3 linked regions of the Homo sapiens genome follow. The protein of the gene in region 1 purifies or fractionates together with the protein of each later gene. This does not show direct contact. Each region holds a gene or a part of one and is shown in the gene's direction. Other genes may lie near its edges.

Evidence for each region.
Region 2: the proteins of FLRT1 (region 1) and AXL purify together in Homo sapiens (affinity purification with mass spectrometry; one large-scale study listed by BioGRID and IntAct). This does not show direct contact.
Region 3: the proteins of FLRT1 (region 1) and PCDH17 purify together in Homo sapiens (affinity purification with mass spectrometry; 2 studies listed by BioGRID and IntAct, with this or other methods). This does not show direct contact.

Annotation. Positions count from the first base shown.
Region 1 is NC_000011.10:64,034,373-64,038,127, forward strand, and holds the start of FLRT1 (leucine-rich repeat transmembrane protein FLRT1), read left to right. Parts: upstream 1-1,558; 5' UTR 1,559-1,787; intron 1,788-2,309; exon of another isoform or gene 2,310-2,403; intron 2,404-3,755.
Region 2 is NC_000019.10:41,259,710-41,262,386, forward strand, and holds the end of AXL (tyrosine-protein kinase receptor UFO isoform 1 precursor), read left to right. Parts: coding exon 1-195; 3' UTR 196-2,057; downstream 2,058-2,677. UniProt on the Homo sapiens protein: Receptor tyrosine kinase that transduces signals from the extracellular matrix into the cytoplasm by binding growth factor GAS6 and which is thus regulating many physiological processes including cell survival, cell proliferation, migration and differentiation.
Region 3 is NC_000013.11:57,638,144-57,641,798, forward strand, and holds part of PCDH17 (protocadherin-17 precursor), read left to right. Parts: intron 1-3,655. UniProt on the Homo sapiens protein: Potential calcium-dependent cell-adhesion protein.

The DNA of each region.
Region 1 (3,755 bases):
GGTATAATGCTGTTTGGGCAATAAATAAAAATTGGGAGGAAAAAATAGCTGTTTGGTGAATTGAGTAGAAATTGGGAGAAAGAAGAAAGGGAGTTAAGGGGAGGGAAATTAGAAGGGTGAAGTGAGGAGGGAGAGGCAGGAAGGGCAAAGACAGGCGCATGCAGAGCGCACAGAGGCCAGAGGCGGCGGCCTCAGGCTAGGCCCCAGTCTGTTCCCGGACTGGGCGCAAGAGGGCTGGGTTTGCACAGGGAAAGGAGGGGGAGAGGTGCTGGAGTCTCTGTAGGGGGGACCCTCCCCAAGGGGATCTGGGAGGGCATCCCAGAGGGGAGGTGGCCCCCAGGCCTCGATGGACAGCAAAGAGCAGGGCCGGCAGAGGGGGTCCCAGCCAGACTGTGGGCGGTCTGAGGGTGGATCAGGAGCACTGGGGCCCTGGTGGGGGCTCTGGGCAGGCTTGGGACTCAGAGCAGCCACTGACAAGGTGATGAGGTCTGACCAGGGCAGGCCAGGCTGGGTATATGGGAGAGTCCCTTACTTAGTGTCCCAGCGAATGCCAAGAGCACGGGGACTTTCAGGCTAAGAGGAGGCTGTCTGGTCTAAACACTCCCTCACCCCACCCGGATGCCACCCACAGGCATGAACATCTTCCCAGTCTCTAATAGGTGCCAGGCACTGGGCCAGCCACCCTCCCATTCAAGGTCTTCTTCATCTCTCACAGTAACCTTTGGAGCTAGGTAGTAACGGTCCCATTTCACAATCCAGGACACTGAGGCTGGGAGAGGTTCAGCAACTTGGCCAAGGTCACAGTCAGCTGGGGATGGGAGGGGGCGCTGGCATGGGACCCTGGCACTGCCCCCTTAATAGGTGGGAGGGGTATTGCTGGGGAGCGCCCGGGTGTTTACAGCACGCGGCGGATGAGAGGGTCTGCCCAGGGAAGGGGCGCCAGGCAGGAAGGAAGGGGTTACTTTGGCATGCAGAGTAGGCGGTGGGTACCTGTTTGTGAATGAATGCACGGGTGGACGGATGAATGAATGAATGAATGAATGGATGGCTGGAGGGATGGTTGAATGAGTGGGTGCGGAGAGGAGGGTGCTGGGGAGGCGGCGCGTGAGCTAGAACCCCTTTCTCCCCCGCCTCCACGGTGGAGGTTGGCTTTGGGAGCCTCCCTCCCCCAACTCCCCAGAGGGGTCGGCTCCCCCACCCGCCCTTCCCCCAGCCAGTTTAGCCGAGGGCGGGGGAGGGGGGCGCGGAGGCCGCTTCTCCCCGGCTGGGCCAGAATCCCCGCGCGGCGGCGCAGCCTCCCGCGCCGGGTCCCGCCGGCCAGTGCGCAGCGCGGCGCCCCCGTCCTCCTCCCCCTCCCCTCCTCCTCCTCTCCCTCCCCGCTCCGCGCCTGCACGCACGGCCCCCGCCGCCGCCGCCGCGAGGGGAGAGGCGGCCGCACAGCCTGGTTCCCCGCGCCCTGCTCGCCGCCGCCGCTCGCGCGGGCACCGCCGCTGGTCCCCGCCCCGCCGCCGAGCGCACCCGCCCGGGCACACGCACCCCGCCGCTGGACGCACCCCCCGCACTCCTCCCGCGGCTCCGCCGGGCGCCCGAGCCGGGCAGATGCGCCGCCGCGCGCCCCCCGCTCCGGGCCCGCCACCGTGCTCTGCCGCGCGCCGGGGGCTCCTCTCCCGGGCCCCCCTGGGCGCCCTCCGGCTCTGGTTCCCGCCCGCTCCTTGGAATAACCCCTGAGGCTCCAGCCGTCACCGCAAAGTTTCCCGAGGAGACCCGCCTCCCCGGCCGCTGCGCAGGTAGGGCTGGCTGCACCGGGCGGGGGTCGGGGTCCGCGCGTCTGGGACAGGGCGCCAGAGCCGACGGGGCGGGGGCCGGGGGCCCGGGGGCACCGAAGCGCCACGGGGTCAGGCAGCCTGGCTTTGCCCCAGAGCGGCGGGAGATGGGACGCCCAGCCTTTGGGATTTGGGGTGGGGGTCCCTGAGTCAAGAGCCAAGCACCAGTAGCGGTGGCGCTGGCCCCGCCGCGGGGAGGCGCGGGGTGCGCGGCCGGCGGCTCAGCTCTCCCGAGCCGAGGCTGGAAAGGGCGGGGGCTCAGCTGGAGCTCTAGTCCAAGCCCTCGCTGCACCCCCCAGGGAGGGGGCCTGGCCCGTGGGGGGCGTCAGGCCGGTCATGTGGGTCCCAGCTCCCGCACTCGGGAACCGGAGGAGGGCGCGCGGCCAGGGACAGCCGGCCGGCCTGGGCGCCGCGCTCCCGTCCCCACCAGCCGCGTGAGTCACGGTTGGAGCGAGGTTTTATTTTTAAAACGACTTCAAGGGGGGCATGAGCAGCCTCCAACTTCCCTCCCTGTGCGCGCTGTGGACCGTCAGCCCTGAGCCGGGCGGGGGCTGGGGCCGTACACCTGGCGGCTGGAACGGTGAGACCATGGTGCCTGGGCGGGGGGCGGCGGGCACCCCCCATCCCCCAGCTCTCAAGACAAGGAGGCGGCCCGACCCGGCGGCGCACGCCCCTCCTCGCGGGCACTGGAGACCCCGGGGAGGAAGGCTGGGGAGTGTTGTCGCCCAGCTGCAGGGAACCGTGGTTGATCAGAGCTCCCCGAGGAGGAGAAAGTTGTGGAACAGGGACACCAGGGAGCTGCCACAGCCTTCCCGGTGGCCCCGGGAGGTCTTCGAGGCCCTCCAGGGTGGGCAGTTTTGAGAGAATACAGCCCAGCTGGGGTGTGCCAGGCCCCCGAGGCCCAAGCCAGAGCTCTGATGTGAATAAATACAGCCAAGGCTGGGGACGGAGGTGAGGGGTGACTGAGAACAGCCCTGCCTCACCGCGGCCCCTACGCCCTCGGGTTGGATGGAAACCAGCCCCTCCACATCCCCCTCCCCAGGTGGCTCAGGAGTTAGGAAGGAGGCTGTCTGTGGGGGGGACCCACGATGCCACTGTGGAGGGAGGTGGCTGAGGCACCCTGTCTCTGCCCGGCGGCCGCGGGGGAGGCAGCCGCCGCGCTCAGGGGCTCCAGATTCCAGTTTCTGGAGTTGAAAGCTACTGCATCTCTTCCGCCAGCCCCGGGAGGAGAGGCGCAGACATCACCTGTCAGCTGGTGCTGACTCCGTGGGCGACTGTTCAGGGCTTCCTCAGAAGGTTTAAAATGGAAATGGCCTGAGCTGACAGGGCCCGTGCCTGGGAGGGGACGCTGCCTAGCTGGGCCAGCAGTGAGGGGGCCCTGGTAGGTGTGAGGGGCAGGAAGAGCTGAGGGCTGTCACATATCTGGCTGAAGGGTCGGCCATGGGCACAGGGTGTGTGTGTGTGTGCGCACCCAGTCCCATGTTCTTTCCCAGACACAGAGACTGGATACTCTTCAGTAAAAAGCACCCTGACCCCAGCATGGAGGCTCCGTAGCCCACACCCCCAAGGCAGCTGTGGCCTGCTGGACTTCACCTAGACCTGGGTCTGTGCATCCGCACTCTACCATTTATTGGTCCCTCCACCTCCCTGTGCCTCAGTTTCCCTTGTTGGTAAAATGGGATTGATAGTGCCACCTCCTGAGCCTGAGCCAGGGTGCTGCTTTGTAAGTGCATTTGACGCATGTTGTTAGTGGTCCTGCTCCTGGACTGGAGGATTCTCAAGGGCTGAGGGTATCTGCAGGGACTTCAGAGGGTCGGGGGGTCGGATTTTCCCACCACCAGCCAGTGTGCTGTCACTGGACTTCATCCTCACGCTGGCCCTCAGTGGCAGCGCCCTGTGTCCCCTCCTCCCCATCTCCGAGGCCTCCCATGA
Region 2 (2,677 bases), on another chromosome or scaffold:
CCTGAACCCCCTGGAGCTGCAGGAGGAGCTGACCCCCCAACCCAGCCAGACCCTAAGGATTCCTGTAGCTGCCTCACTGCGGCTGAGGTCCATCCTGCTGGACGCTATGTCCTCTGCCCTTCCACAACCCCTAGCCCCGCTCAGCCTGCTGATAGGGGCTCCCCAGCAGCCCCAGGGCAGGAGGATGGTGCCTGAGACAACCCTCCACCTGGTACTCCCTCTCAGGATCCAAGCTAAGCACTGCCACTGGGGAAAACTCCACCTTCCCACTTTCCCACCCCACGCCTTATCCCCACTTGCAGCCCTGTCTTCCTACCTATCCCACCTCCATCCCAGACAGGTCCCTCCCCTTCTCTGTGCAGTAGCATCACCTTGAAAGCAGTAGCATCACCATCTGTAAAAGGAAGGGGTTGGATTGCAATATCTGAAGCCCTCCCAGGTGTTAACATTCCAAGACTCTAGAGTCCAAGGTTTAAAGAGTCTAGATTCAAAGGTTCTAGGTTTCAAAGATGCTGTGAGTCTTTGGTTCTAAGGACCTGAAATTCCAAAGTCTCTAATTCTATTAAAGTGCTAAGGTTCTAAGGCCTACTTTTTTTTTTTTTTTTTTTTTTTTTTTTTTTGCGATAGAGTCTCACTGTGTCACCCAGGCTGGAGTGCAGTGGTGCAATCTCGCCTCACTGCAACCTTCACCTACCGAGTTCAAGTGATTTTCCTGCCTTGGCCTCCCAAGTAGCTGGGATTACAGGTGTGTGCCACCACACCCGGCTAATTTTTATATTTTTAGTAGAGACAGGGTTTCACCATGTTGGCCAGGCTGGTCTAAAACTCCTGACCTCAAGTGATCTGCCCACCTCAGCCTCCCAAAGTGCTGAGATTACAGGCATGAGCCACTGCACTCAACCTTAAGACCTACTGTTCTAAAGCTCTGACATTATGTGGTTTTAGATTTTCTGGTTCTAACATTTTTGATAAAGCCTCAAGGTTTTAGGTTCTAAAGTTCTAAGATTCTGATTTTAGGAGCTAAGGCTCTATGAGTCTAGATGTTTATTCTTCTAGAGTTCAGAGTCCTTAAAATGTAAGATTATAGATTCTAAAGATTCTATAGTTCTAGACATGGAGGTTCTAAGGCCTAGGATTCTAAAATGTGATGTTCTAAGGCTCTGAGAGTCTAGATTCTCTGGCTGTAAGGCTCTAGATCATAAGGCTTCAAAATGTTATCTTCTCAAGTTCTAAGATTCTAATGATGATCAATTATAGTTTCTGAGGCTTTATGATAATAGATTCTCTTGTATAAGATCCTAGATCCTAAGGGTCGAAAGCTCTAGAATCTGCAATTCAAAAGTTCCAAGAGTCTAAAGATGGAGTTTCTAAGGTCCGGTGTTCTAAGATGTGATATTCTAAGACTTACTCTAAGATCTTAGATTCTCTGTGTCTAAGATTCTAGATCAGATGCTCCAAGATTCTAGATGATTAAATAAGATTCTAACGGTCTGTTCTGTTTCAAGGCACTCTAGATTCCATTGGTCCAAGATTCCGGATCCTAAGCATCTAAGTTATAAGACTCTCACACTCAGTTGTGACTAACTAGACACCAAAGTTCTAATAATTTCTAATGTTGGACACCTTTAGGTTCTTTGCTGCATTCTGCCTCTCTAGGACCATGGTTAAGAGTCCAAGAATCCACATTTCTAAAATCTTATAGTTCTAGGCACTGTAGTTCTAAGACTCAAATGTTCTAAGTTTCTAAGATTCTAAAGGTCCACAGGTCTAGACTATTAGGTGCAATTTCAAGGTTCTAACCCTATACTGTAGTATTCTTTGGGGTGCCCCTCTCCTTCTTAGCTATCATTGCTTCCTCCTCCCCAACTGTGGGGGTGTGCCCCCTTCAAGCCTGTGCAATGCATTAGGGATGCCTCCTTTCCCGCAGGGGATGGACGATCTCCCACCTTTCGGGCCATGTTGCCCCCGTGAGCCAATCCCTCACCTTCTGAGTACAGAGTGTGGACTCTGGTGCCTCCAGAGGGGCTCAGGTCACATAAAACTTTGTATATCAACGAGCTTCTGTCTCCTCTTGTCTCCTTTTAGCTGTGATGTGGCCCCATTCCCTGGCAATTCAGTTCCCCCATCAGAAAAAAGAAGGGCTTGGTAGGGTCTTGGAATTCTGTCCTCACTAGAGAGGGTAGAAATGAACACACAGATAGACAAAAAGACATACAAGCAAAGAGATGCAGGTTCTCAGAAACCCCCAGTGAGGAACTGGCATACAGATCCAGGATCACAGACACACACACACACACACACACCTGTTCCGCCGCAAACTAACAGACACATGAATTAATGGACACACCCAGGAGGACCTGGTCACAAATACAGAGACTGAAACTCAGACGCATAGAGTAACACAGACACACAGAATTACACAGACACAAGCATATTTACAAACATGCTCAGGCAGATACCCGCCACGAATAGGAAGAGACACAGACCTAGAGTCAAGTGACACAAATACTCAAGAGACATGTAGAGTACAACAGGTACTCACAACCCCGAACGTTCAGACTGACATAGAAACACAGGCACAGAACACCTCCGATCATCACGGACCCACAAAGGGCCTCCAGCGAAGACCAGCCCACCGTGTCTGGCACGCACTCGCGAGCGGGCGTTCGCGGGTGTG
Region 3 (3,655 bases), on another chromosome or scaffold:
GAGCACAGGTTTTGTAGTACATAAGGCAAATAGATTGTTATACAAATTTATAAGAGCACTTTTTATAGGAGCAATATTCCTGTGAATTATTTTATGTGTTAATATGAAATCTAAAGTCAAGTAAAGAGTTTATTACTAGTTCTCAAGAATAACTGCTTATCGTGATTTATCAAGAATTAAGTGCTAAGTCTCAGGGTGACTTCTCAACAGGTGTTTTCAATGAAGGCCTTGTAGGAAAGAGAGGAGGAGGCTGGGGACTTCTCACTGATGGGAGACTTCCCAGTTTTGTTTGAACATCTGTGTTTTCACATTTTTTGTAGCACTACTACAAATCATTTTAATATGCTCTCATAGAAGGAAATACATTGAGCCAGCAGAATAAGATCTACTAAAATAAATTTTGAAAAGGAATACATTCTTACTCAGTGTTTTACAAATCAATTTCAAACGATTCACATTTGGGTTGACTTTAGAGTCTTTATGCTAGGAAGATAAAATCCTTTTGATAGATGTACATGGCCTTTTCAATAACAGGGAATTAAGCATATGGTAAATACCTAGAGCCAATCCAAATATATAAAAATGATATTGAAGTGTAGAGGACTAACGTATCATAGTGTAAACAATAAACTCAATATTGCAGAGTAAAAAGGTGAAAGGAGACTCCATCTTTAATAGCAACATTACCCGCTGTATGCCTTTATTCCCACTTTGCTCTAGTACAGGAAGATCTTCACTATGGGGACTTATTCAGATAAGTTCCCAAGATCATGATCTTCAAAATTTCATACTCTAGCCTATTAATGATTTCAGTAACAAATACAAAGTGCGTGAACAATTTATTTTGGTATTTATAATTTTGGAGATATTTTGCTATGATTTTTATTCTAAGACAGCTCTTTAATTAGTATATGCATTAGTTTCCATAAACTATATATACATCTCTACTTGTAGGCATTCTGGTATCTTGAGTAGGAAAGGAATGTCCCTTTCTTACTCTGTGCCTTCTGGATTGTTTAGTTCACTCATCCTTTTTCTTAAATATTTTGAAAAGGTAGAATGAGTAATTCCTACTTGAGAGTACACAATAATTACATATTTCTTTTTCTGTTTTATCAGGCATTAAAAGTAGTGTAAAGTAAATAAACTTAATTTAAAATATAATCAGATATTCAATGTTTAGAGTTTTTTTGGAGAAGAGTTTATAACCCCTAAAAGTCCAAAAATTGTTATCATCATTATTATATTGTTACTTTTATTTTTATATGCATTTATGAAAATTTTAGCTCCAATTTTAATGTGGCATTTCTCTATTTCCCAATAAATGAAAACACAGAAAGTATAAAGCTAGAAACCAGAGAATCTTGTTTTTAATATTAACTAATATAACTCTTTGTAATGTATTAACTTCTTGATTCCATTAGCTTTTGGTTTTCGATAAAATTTTCAAAATGCAAGCTAGGTAATATTTTACCATTCTTGTATTGAGATTATAATCCTTCAGTCTTTTGAAAATGTCAGGAGTAAGATAATTTTTAATTTTACTTGAGTTGTGTGAGTTCTATAATTTCAATAAATATTACCATATGTAAGTATATGCCAAAAAATTTGGAATTTTAGTCTTGGCATCTTCATGTTATTTAAGGCTGTGTGTGATCATGAAAAGATCGGCATAGAAAAGTATGCCCTAAAATTGTTACCTCAACTACCTGAATATACTGTTTCAGTCATGAGAAAATTTACATTACCACCTTTGACTATATTGTTCAACATACTAAACACACAAAATCCCCCAATTTTCCAGAATGTTTTCTCCATAAAGTTGATGCTATAACATATATCATTCACTTTTTTCAAGTGCATAGATGCAGATTTTGTATATGAGGTTAAAATAATCCCAAATATCATCTCTCTTCAAAAAACTAAGAAATACACATATTTTAAGAGGAAAAAACCTTCAAAAATTTCAGGTAATATTTAATCCTGTTTAAAAATATAGCATTTATATTTTATCATGTTTCAGGACTATTCTTGGGTTTCAGGTTTCAAGTTTTTCACTGTTAGTGCTGCTTGCTGCTTATGTACTATAACACAATAGAAATGTATCTACAAATATAAAGGGCATACATTAAGAAAAAATATATTTAAGATTAATGAAAATTCACATGCATTTATTGCAGTGAAATTTGGCTATGCCTGTATTTATGAAAATATACAAATAATTTTTTGGTAAATTTAAATATGTGTATAAATGTATATGTCTTTATATTTTCAATATAGTGTATGTAAGTACTTGCTCAAGCACAAATACTAGTCCAATTTTATACATTTTAGTTCAAAAGTATTTCTTCTCTAAGGAACAGCTCAAGCTTTTATTTTTCTTTGAAAATATGTTGAAGCTTTATTTTACTGTTTTAAAGTTTCAAACAATTTGAAGTCCCATAAAATAGAGCTAGTGACCCTAGAGCGGGGGGACTTAACACGTGGCCTTCAGTGGGCAATAGGTTGAAGCCTATGTAGACGAAGAGAAACAAAAATCTCACCCAAGTTCCTGATTCTTTTGAGAAGATGGCAGGAGAGCTGGAAGCATGTGAGAATGTATGCTGTGAGCCTGATGATGAAACAACAACAGGAGGAAGAAGAAGCCACTATAACTGGGCCCATGCCAGTTAGGAAGTAAAACTTAACTCCCTAATGCTGAGAAGTCTTGCAATACACTCAATAGTGGGTAAATTCTTACAAATGCACCCGCTAATTACAATATTAGTCATTGCACTAGAATGTATTCCCCTCAGTGGTACTTCTGTTTAATAAATCCCATAGGGCATTATCTTAAGGTTGTATTTTAGTAAAGCCATTAGGGAGGGATTTTTTGTGTATTAAATTCCTTCAATCAATGACTGTATATTAGTTAGAGAATAGCATAAAGTTCCTTTTGCCTATCATTTTGAAGATAATGTGACTTCTGCAACCCACCTACAAAGCACTTTTAAACTTCGTCAGACCTGCATTAACCTATTGTCAACCTACTTTAGTAAAGGAGGCTTTGACAATAATTTTCTTCAATGACATACAGTATTTTATAGTTAGTCATAAGCTTTCACCACTAGCTTTGACAATGATATACTGCGATCTTTGGTCTTCTGGAATAAGTTATCTACAATAAAGAAGTCCTTAATGACATCAACATCCCTACTGTGACTAAGCAGAAGCATGCTTTTATTTCCTTGCTACTGCAGAAATACTAAGATCAATATATTTAAGGTAAAGCAAAAAAAAAGAAAAAAAACACGCAAAAATCCCATAACAAAATATAGATGAAAAATTGTGGCTCTGTGGGTGGCATCCTTTGCTTGTATGTACCAAGTTCTTCCGGGGATAGACTATAAAATTGGTTTCAGACAGTGTTTGAGAGAAAAAAAAAAAAAAAAAAAAAAAAAAAAAATATATATATATATATATATATATATATATATATATGACATACTTCTATTCATCTGTTCTGGTCCTAGTGACATTCTGATTACTGGTATTTGTAGGCCTTGCCCTGGATCTATTCCAAGCAGTTTTATTGTAGTGAAATGGTTCTTACAGTTCATTGAGCATCTAGCATAACTGTGCTGAATATGATTGGCGCGTTTGCATATATTTATTC